Linked DNA regions of Homo sapiens: region 1 is reported to be linked to region 2. The links are microRNA targets in miRTarBase. Many come from high-throughput screens and were not tested one by one. Region 2 holds a microRNA gene; the other region holds the end of a gene's coding sequence.

Region 1 (5,391 bases), not on the chromosome of region 2:
ACAATATAGAACAATATTCATCATCTTCTGGAGAGCACATATAAAGTTTCTGGCTTAAATAATTTCCCCAGCTGTATCGACATAGGCTACATGAGTAAAATAGTGAAATATATTTAAGCCTATTACTAGACATATATGCTTTTATAGAATAGGTAAACTTTGTGGCAGTTACCAGATTAACAAAACATATTTGTCATTGGCATTACTATTGTATTTAAAGAATTTAAATTGTAAACAATTCTATTTTAACAGATATTAGGGTATAATGACATAATGTTAAGACATTTGAAAATGTTTCTATATTTGGGTCCAGCTCAAAAAAACTAATTTTCTCATAGTCTTCATTTTTTTATTAGCTTTGCCTAAATATTATGTTTTTTTTTATTGCAGTGATTCTCTTTCTGAAAGTTTAAAAATACTTTGCAAATTTATAATCTCATCTTCTCTTTCCTCAACTCTCACTGTGCAGGGCCCTGTGTTTTTCCTTGAAGACGGGAAATCTGCTATCTCCTTGAATGATGCTTTGATGTGGGCAAAGGTGAATCCATTCTCACCTTTAGGGACTGGAATACGACTCAATCCATTCTGATAGAAGATTTTTGTCCATGCTTGATTTTTTTTTTTAAAGAAAAACTTTCATGGGTTAGCATTACCTTAATCTTTGTTGCTCAAGTGCCAGAGGTTGGGAGAAGGATTGCAGGTTGGGAGAGGTGGGAAATAGCAGTGAATTTTAGTCATTAACTTCAAAATATATATATATATATAATTTAAAGGAAAAATAGGTGCCTCCTTTATAAACAGTAATAGCTACGTTTGGGAAGGAGGAAACATTTAAATTATAAAGGACTGAATAATCTAAAAAGCATATAAAAGTTTCACACAGCATAAAAGATACCAAAATATCATATGGTTGAAATATTGAAACATATTAAATTGTGCAACACCTAGAATAGTGCTAGACATACAGTAAGTACTTAATGGATATTTGAATGATTGAATATCTTGAAATGTTGAAATGTAAGGTGTGCACAGTGATCTTCAACTTAACAAACACTTACGTTCTCCTTTATAAAATGCATAGTAAACCACTAACGTTAGCTGTTTTAATAAAAGTTTTCAGTTATAAGTTTAGTAAATATTAATAAATGGATACACATTCAAAATACTTTTAAAAAAAAGAAAATGTTACCAGTTTTTTTATCTGAAGTTTAACTGTCCCATTGTAAAGGTGTAAGTTATATAGGCTTGAAAAAAATTGGCGGGTAAAAATCACAAAATGCAGTCGAATATATATATGAAAACTTGCATTAGGTGATAAAGTGACTATTTTAAGAGATTCAGCATGCATGGATATTAGTTTTGATTAATGTGTACAATAATTTACACAGTATACTCTAGTCAATTTATGTTAACTTTATTTAAAACACAATTTATTTGGCCGGGCACGGTGGCTCACACCTGTAATCTCAGCACTTTGGCAGGCCAAGGCAGGTGGATCACCTGAGGTCAGGAGTTCATGACCAGCCTGGCCAGCATGGTAAAACCCTGTCTCCACTAAAAATACAAAAATTAGCCAGGCATGGTGGCGGGCACCTGTAATCCCAGTTACTTGGGAAGCTGAGGCAGGAGAATCCCTTGAACCTGGGAGGCAGAGGTTCCAGTGAGCCAAGATCGCACCACTGCACTCCAGCCTGGGCAACAAAGAGCGAAACTCTGTCTCAAAAAACAAACCAACAAAAACCACAATTGATTTGATGAAAATTAGTTTTAAGTAAATGTTTGTAAATAGATATTGGTTGAATTTTTGGATATATTATGTTGATTTAACTTTTAAAATGTTGTTTAAAAGTGTGAAGCTATGAAAAGCCTGATAATGTGACTACAGATATTTCAGTTGGACTAGAATTCTGACTTTGAAACTTATTAAATTAATGCATACTGGAAGTACTTTGATACTCAAGTTGTTTCACAAGATTTATAATATAGATGGTTTTGTTTGACTAAAGAATAATCTCATATAACTAGAATACTTGTGGCTTTTATTATCTTTAAACTTGTTGCATTTAAAATATTTTTAAAACCTTCTTAACAAAACTTCTTAAAACTGGAAAAAATATATATTATGTATCTATGTATCATATTTATCACATGACCACTTTTGATTCCTTAAAAAGACATTACAGGCTTAAATTCCATTTTATTAAAAAAAAAAAATTGCCTGTAATCCCAGCACTTCAGGAGGCCGAGATGGGCAGATCTTGAGGTCGGTAGATGGAGACCATCCTGGCCAACATGGTGAAACCCTGTCTCTACTAAAAATACAAAAATTAGCTGGGTGTGGTGGTGTGTACCTGTAGTCCCAGCTACCCAGGAAGCTAAGGCAGGAGAATCGCTTGAATCCAGGAGGCGGAGGTTGCAGTGAGCTGAGATCGCACTACTGCACTCCAGCCTGGGCGACAGAGCAAGACCACCATCTCCAAAAATTATATATATAAAAATAATTAATATTATAGAAGAGAATATACACAACTCAGAGATGCAATGGATAATATAAAAAGAGTACCTGAGATGTATTTTTTTAAACTCTTAGAGATATCTGTAACTCAAATTTTTCTTAGGTGAGGAGGATTATTAACTGGCACATATGTACTAAAAACCCCTCACTTAAAAATGGCAGTCTCAATCCTACTGTCATTCTTTTTATTTTAAAATAAATAAATAAGCCTATCTTTTTGTGCTTACATACTTAAAAGGATATCATTAAGTATATAAACAATCATTACTTCTGTATTTTTAATGAATGCAGGAAAATAATATTTTTATGTATAAAAGATGAAGAAAAAATTTTGCAAGTCTTTAAGCACATAAATACAACAGAATAGCCACCCAATTTCTGTCTGAAATCTAAATTGGATGGATTTGACCATCATTCTATTATCTTTGATTTCTACAATGTCTATATCTTATTACCTATAACTATTAATTTTTCATAGAATTATAAATGTCATTTGACTATGTCAATCTGTATATATTGTACCTTAATATGAAAAACAAATTTTTTAATTCATAAAAGTATTTTTATTAGATTTCATATGCATGAAACCCAAGCAAATTATATGAATTTATTTTACTATTTGAAAATGTTCATATTACCAATAATGTGGACAAATTACTTTGCAGGTTTAAATATGCCTCTGTAAAGGAAGAGTCTCATTAGACAATGATTTTTAAAGCATTGGAAAAATATTTTGCCTGTAAAAGTTAGTAACTAGGTGGTTCACAAAATTACAACATCAAAATAGTTACATCTTGTGAAAATATATGATTTTTATGTCAATCAAGACAAATGAAATATATATGTATGTGTATATATATACATGTATGTATGAAATATATATATGTGCGTGTGTGTGTGTATATATATATATATATATATATATTTCTATGAAATTGTCCAGATGTGTTCAGGAACATGATTGCATTAGAGCAATGACTGTATTTTGTTGTCCTTATAACATTTATATTATTTCAGTTTTAAGTCAAAAGGTATTCTGAATATAATAAAAGCCTCACAAATTATTTGTAAAATTTAGTAGTTCATATTTAGTATATCAGTAATATAGAAGACATCTTTATAGTCAACTCTTAATTAATGCTTATTGTACCAAATCTTTGAGATATTTGTACATAAATGAAATATGTACTTTCATGCTAAAATTATATATCATGACTGTGCTATAATTTGGCATGTCATTATCTAGATTTATATGTATGTACGTATTTCAGGTCCTTGAAATTTTAATAAATATTACAGTTAAATCCTGATATGACATAGTTACCGGCTAAGATGAGTAGTTGTTTCTTTCCCGAGACACCATTGAAAGACAAGTGTTTCTCCATAAATGCTTGGATCAGAGTCATCAGAGGTGTGAAAGGGCTAAGCTGTCCAACTGAGTTGTTACCCTACTCAGTAACCTAGGAAAATCACTTCATTGAATTGTTCCAGAGGCTGATTCTTCACTATAGAAACACTGACTACAGTATACCCCAAAATTACTATAAAAATGGAGAAAGTGCTTACTCATTAATACAAATGCTATGTCATAGTAGCTTCTATTCCCATAAGCTACTCGGGAGGCTGAGGCAGGAGAATAGCGTGAACCCGGGAGGCGGAGCTTGCAGTGAGCTGAGATTGCGCCACTGCACTCCAGCCTGGGCAACAGAGCAAGACTAGGTCTCAAAAACCAAAAATAAAAACAAAACAAAACAAAAAAGAAAATGTTTTATTCCTATAGCAGCTGCTATAGCTCCTAGAAAATTTCATTGCTTCCTTCTGTCAAAGATTCTTTTTGAAGTAAATGGTCTAAGATATGCCTGTAGTGTTGGCTTCTGTTGCACAATTCATCCTCAAGAAACTCTTGAGGTTACCCACTTTGACCATCCTGTATCTTCATTTACATAATCACTATGTAATGAAGCCTACAGACTATTTCCTATTTTCCAGTCTCTATAGGTCCCTCAGGATTCTTGGGAACTTACCATAGTCGGGCCATGAGTGATGAGCTCTTTCAGGAGATTGAACACAGCACCAGGAGGACAAAGAAACTTATTATTTGACTCTACCCAAAATTAATCCTCTTCTCTGGATCTTTTTCATGGCTGAGCTTCAGAGACTTGTTTCTCAAACCTTTTCCAAAGGAACTATATAGGTTAAAAGTTATTCTCATAATTTTGTACTTTAGATTGTCCCATGAGAGTGCAAGACAACAGATACATTACTTATAGCTGATTAAGATATGCATTTGACCTAGATCTCTTACCTCAGATAAAACTGGATTTTGAACACATTCCCAGTAAGTTATCTGTATCATCCGGGCTTTCTTAGTCTTCTTCAATATTATCTCTCTAAAAATGCAAAATTTAACAAGGAAGTCTCTGGAGGTAGAATTGCTAATAAAACAGTCTGAACTTTCAAAAATGCAGAAAATCTGGTAAGTTTAACTGAAAATTGACATTAGTAATATTCATCTTGGGAGTCAAATGAGACTATTAATGAGCCAGTATCAAACATAAATAATACCAGTTGAAAATTTTCCACATATAAAACATAAAATTACCATGTATATATAAAAGATTATTAATTTTTCAGGACATCAGTCTGCTTTTGTTTCCCTTCAGTTAAAATATGGGGCATAGCAGCAACCAGTGGGAACTTTTAAATTGAACTAAATGTATTGCTAAACACCGAATCAAATTCCAAGAAAAGGATGATTTTCTTTCCCCACAACTTGTTTTCAATAGAAGGGACACCTGTTTTTTTTTAATGGTTTAAGTTCAGGCTGTTCTTAGAGATGATCAAGATGTTCTATGGGCCAAAGTATAATAATCATT
Region 2 (5,364 bases):
AGTGGTTTTAGAATAGTATTGGGGGAAAATGTTATCTCTTTAGGGTATGTAAATTCAAACTTTCTTAAGTTATAAGGACTAAGAATTTCCTCTCTAAAATCAGTATCCTTTTCTAAAACAGAAACATTTAAAAAGTTATTTTAGTGGTTTCAGAATAGTATTGGGGGAAAATATTATTTTTATTAGAATGTAACGTAGGCATGATAAGGTAAAATTTGAGTTCTCTATGAATATTTTATATTTGTTATTCAGATATTTTTATACTCTGTAGAAGCAATCACTAACCTTTGTTGAAAGCTTATTCTGTGCCAGGCATTATTTGATGTACTTTGCATGTTTTAACTCACTTTATCCTCTAACTCTAGAAGACACAAGTGTGTCAGTAATTTGGCCAAGACCATTAACCTAGTAAGTGATGAACTGATTGAGGATTCAAAAGTGGCAGTCTGTTCCAGAGCCAGTGCCATGTTGCTTCCTGTATAAACAAGGGTTAATAATCGCAAAAATTATATTATGTGGGTATTTTTAATAGAAACTGTAGCAACTAATAACATGAAATATATTCAGTGACAAAAGTAGTTTAAAAGTAATTTTGCTATGATTTGAGAGCTGGAGGGAATAATTATTTTAATAGAATTTAGTGAAACATGTCTTAATGTAATTCAAAGTAAGTTTTGGTGTTTAATAATTTATTTTTAACCCAGGCATTAGTTGTGGAAAGAATTATCAGAAAAGTAGTAGTCTCCAGGTTAACTGTTTTATGAAAAATAGTTTATTTGGTAACTTTTAATTTAACGTGAGGTGTTATACTGTGGGGTTTTTTTTTTTTTTTGAGACAGAGTCTTGCTCTGTTGCCTAGGCTGGAGTACAGTGGTGCAATTTCAGCTCACTGAAACCTCGACCTACTGGGTTCAAGTGATCCGCCTCAGCCTCCCAAATAGCTGGGACTACAGGTGCGCGTCACCATGCCTGGCTAATTTTTGTATTTTTAGTAGAGATGGGGTTTCACCATGCTGGCCAGGCTGGTTTTGAACTCCTGACCTCATGATCCACCTGCCTTGGCCTCTCAGAGTGCTAAGATTACAGGCGTGAGCCACTGTACTTGGCCTGTACTAAGGTGTTTTAACATGGAATGTAAATATGGGTTTATATGATTTAATCTAACTCTACTTTGGGGAATGTCTGACAAAATTAATTTCTATTACTTTTAGACTTGAAAGAGGGCTCCAGAAAAAGTAGATGCGTATCTGTACAAACAGATCCTACTGATGAAATTCCCACTAAAAAGTCAAAGAAGCATAAAAAGCACAAAAACAAAAAGAAGAAAAAGAAGAAAGAAAAGGAAAAAAAATATAAAAGACAGCCAGAAGAATCTGAGTCAAAGACGAAATCTCATGATGATGGGAACATAGATTTAGAATCTGATTCCTTTTTAAAGTTTGATTCTGAACCTTCAGCTGTGGCGCTGGAGCTTCCTACAAGAGCATTTGGCCCATCTGAGACCAATGAATCCCCTGCAGTTGTGCTAGAACCTCCTGTAGTATCAATGGAGGTATCAGAGCCACACATCTTAGAAACTCTGAAGCCAGCTACAAAAACTGCAGAACTGTCAGTTGTATCTACATCAGTAATCTCAGAGCAGTCAGAGCAGTCTGTGGCAGTAATGCCAGAACCATCCATGACAAAGATTCTGGATTCCTTTGCAGCAGCACCAGTGCCTACTACAACACTGGTGTTGAAGTCATCTGAGCCAGTTGTAACAATGTCAGTGGAGTATCAGATGAAGTCTGTGCTGAAATCTGTGGAGAGCACATCTCCAGAGCCATCAAAGATCATGTTGGTAGAGCCCCCAGTAGCAAAAGTGTTAGAGCCTTCAGAAACCCTTGTGGTATCATCAGAGACACCTACTGAGGTGTACCCTGAGCCAAGCACATCAACAACAATGGATTTTCCAGAGTCATCTGCAATTGAAGCGCTAAGATTGCCAGAGCAGCCTGTAGACGTACCATCGGAGATTGCAGATTCATCCATGACAAGACCGCAGGAGTTGCCGGAGCTGCCTAAGACCACAGCGTTGGAGCTGCAGGAGTCGTCGGTGGCCTCAGCGATGGAGTTGCCGGGGCCACCTGCGACCTCCATGCCGGAGTTGCAGGGGCCCCCTGTGACTCCAGTGCTGGAGTTACCTGGGCCCTCTGCTACCCCGGTGCCAGAGTTGCCAGGGCCCCTTTCTACCCCAGTGCCTGAGTTGCCAGGGCCCCCTGCGACAGCAGTGCCTGAGTTGCCAGGGCCCTCTGTGACACCAGTGCCACAGTTGTCGCAGGAATTGCCAGGGCTTCCAGCACCATCCATGGGGTTGGAGCCACCACAGGAGGTACCAGAGCCACCTGTGATGGCACAGGAGTTGCCAGGGCTGCCTTTGGTGACAGCAGCAGTAGAGTTGCCAGAGCAGCCTGCGGTAACAGTAGCAATGGAGTTGACCGAACAACCTGTGACGACGACAGAGTTGGAGCAGCCTGTGGGGATGACAACGGTGGAACATCCTGGGCATCCTGAGGTGACAACGGCAACAGGGTTGCTGGGGCAGCCTGAGGCAACGATGGTGCTGGAGTTGCCAGGACAGCCAGTGGCAACGACAGCGCTGGAGTTGCCGGGGCAGCCTTCGGTGACTGGGGTGCCAGAGTTGCCAGGGCTGCCTTCGGCAACTAGGGCACTGGAGTTGTCGGGGCAGCCTGTGGCAACTGGGGCACTAGAGTTGCCTGGGCCGCTCATGGCAGCTGGGGCACTGGAGTTCTCGGGGCAGTCTGGGGCAGCTGGAGCACTGGAGCTTTTGGGGCAGCCTCTGGCAACAGGGGTGCTGGAGTTGCCAGGGCAGCCTGGGGCGCCAGAGTTGCCTGGGCAGCCTGTGGCAACTGTGGCGCTGGAGATCTCTGTTCAGTCTGTGGTGACAACATCGGAGCTGTCAACGATGACCGTGTCGCAGTCCCTGGAGGTGCCCTCGACGACAGCGCTGGAATCCTATAATACGGTAGCACAGGAGCTGCCTACTACATTAGTGGGGGAGACTTCTGTAACAGTAGGAGTGGATCCCTTGATGGCCCCAGAATCCCATATATTAGCTTCTAACACCATGGAGACCCATATATTAGCATCCAACACCATGGACTCCCAAATGCTAGCGTCCAACACCATGGACTCCCAGATGCTAGCATCCAACACCATGGACTCCCAGATGTTAGCGTCTAGCACCATGGACTCCCAGATGTTAGCAACTAGCTCCATGGACTCCCAGATGTTAGCAACTAGCTCCATGGACTCCCAGATGTTAGCAACTAGCACTATGGACTCCCAGATGTTAGCAACCAGTTCCATGGACTCCCAGATGTTAGCAACCAGCTCCATGGACTCCCAGATGTTAGCAACCAGCTCCATGGACTCCCAGATGTTAGCAACCAGCTCCATGGACTCCCAGATGTTAGCAACCAGCACCATGGATTCTCAGATGTTAGCAACCAGCACCATGGACTCCCAGATGTTAGCAACTAGCTCAATGGATTCCCAGATGTTAGCATCTGGCACTATGGACTCTCAAATGTTAGCTTCTGGCACCATGGATGCTCAGATGTTAGCGTCTGGTACCATGGATGCCCAGATGTTAGCGTCTAGTACCCAAGATTCTGCTATGTTGGGTTCAAAATCTCCTGATCCCTATAGGTTAGCTCAGGATCCTTACAGGTTAGCTCAGGATCCCTATAGGTTGGGCCATGACCCCTATAGATTAGGTCATGATGCTTACAGGTTAGGACAAGACCCTTATAGATTAGGCCATGATCCCTACAGACTAACTCCTGATCCCTATAGGATGTCACCTAGACCCTACAGGATAGCACCCAGGTCCTATAGAATAGCACCCAGGCCATATAGGTTAGCACCTAGACCCCTGATGTTAGCATCTAGACGTTCTATGATGATGTCCTATGCTGCAGAACGTTCCATGATGTCATCTTACGAACGCTCTATGATGTCTTATGAGCGGTCTATGATGTCCCCTATGGCTGAACGCTCTATGATGTCAGCCTACGAGCGCTCTATGATGTCAGCCTACGAGCGCTCTATGATGTCCCCTATGGCTGAGCGCTCTATGATGTCAGCTTATGAACGCTCCATGATGTCAGCTTATGAACGCTCCATGATGTCCCCAATGGCTGATCGATCTATGATGTCCATGGGTGCTGACCGGTCTATGATGTCGTCATACTCTGCTGCTGACCGGTCTATGATGTCATCGTACTCTGCAGCTGACCGATCTATGATGTCATCTTATACTGCTGATCGTTCAATGATGTCTATGGCTGCTGATTCTTACACCGATTCTTACACTGACACATATACAGAGGCATATATGGTGCCACCTTTGCCTCCTGAAGAGCCCCCAACAATGCCACCGTTGCCACCTGAGGAGCCACCAATGACACCACCATTGCCTCCTGAGGAACCACCAGAGGGTCCAGCATTGCCCACTGAGCAGTCAGCATTAACAGCTGAAAATACTTGGCCTACAGAGGTGCCATCATCACCATCTGAAGAGTCTGTATCGCAGCCTGAGCCTCCTGTGAGTCAAAGTGAGATTTCGGAGCCTTCAGCAGTGCCTACTGATTATTCAGTGTCAGCATCAGATCCCTCAGTTTTAGTATCAGAGGCTGCTGTGACTGTTCCAGAACCACCACCAGAGCCAGAATCTTCAATTACGTTAACACCTGTAGAGTCTGCAGTAGTAGCAGAAGAACATGAAGTTGTTCCAGAGAGACCAGTGACTTGTATGGTATCTGAAACTCCCGCCATGTCAGCTGAACCAACTGTGTTAGCATCAGAGCCTCCTGTTATGTCAGAGACAGCAGAAACATTTGATTCCATGAGAGCCTCAGGACATGTTGCCTCAGAAGTATCTACATCCTTGTTGGTTCCAGCAGTAACTACTCCAGTGCTGGCAGAGAGCATTCTGGAGCCGCCAGCCATGGCTGCCCCAGAGTCTTCAGCTATGGCTGTCCTGGAGTCTTCGGCTGTGACCGTCCTGGAGTCTTCGACTGTGACTGTCCTGGAGTCTTCGACTGTAACTGTCCTGGAGCCTTCGGTTGTGACTGTCCCGGAGCCTCCTGTTGTGGCTGAGCCAGACTATGTTACCATTCCTGTGCCAGTTGTTTCTGCGCTGGAGCCTTCTGTGCCTGTTCTGGAACCAGCGGTGTCAGTCCTTCAACCTTCTATGATTGTTTCAGAACCATCTGTTTCTGTCCAGGAATCGACTGTGACAGTTTCAGAGCCTGCTGTCACAGTCTCAGAGCAGACTCAAGTAATACCAACTGAGGTGGC

What was found. The annotated mature microRNA hsa-miR-6501-5p reads AGUUGCCAGGGCUGCCUUUGGU and lies in region 2 at 2,400-2,421, shown strand. An mRNA with a match to its seed (bases 2 to 7 or 8) in the 3' UTR can be bound and repressed. Matches are read on the target gene's strand: a 7mer-m8 pairs with bases 2 to 8, a 7mer-A1 pairs with bases 2 to 7 and ends in A, and an 8mer does both.
Region 1: miRTarBase lists WDR17 as a target of hsa-miR-6501-5p. Seed matches in the 3' UTR shown: 7mer-A1 at 1,695-1,701.

Annotation. Positions count from the first base shown.
Region 1 is chr4:176,178,991-176,184,381 of GRCh38, forward strand. WDR17 (WD repeat domain 17) reads left to right here. Exons shown (of 29, transcript NM_181265.4): 29 at 470-3,825. The coding sequence ends at 589. Among named protein-coding and RNA genes, the nearest start is that of SPATA4, 14 kb to the right of the region's middle.
Region 2 is chr21:33,548,265-33,553,628 of GRCh38, forward strand. MIR6501 (microRNA 6501) reads left to right here and starts at 2,398; the gene lies at 2,398-2,464. SON (SON DNA and RNA binding protein) reads left to right here. Exons shown (of 12, transcript NM_138927.4): 3 at 1,212-5,364.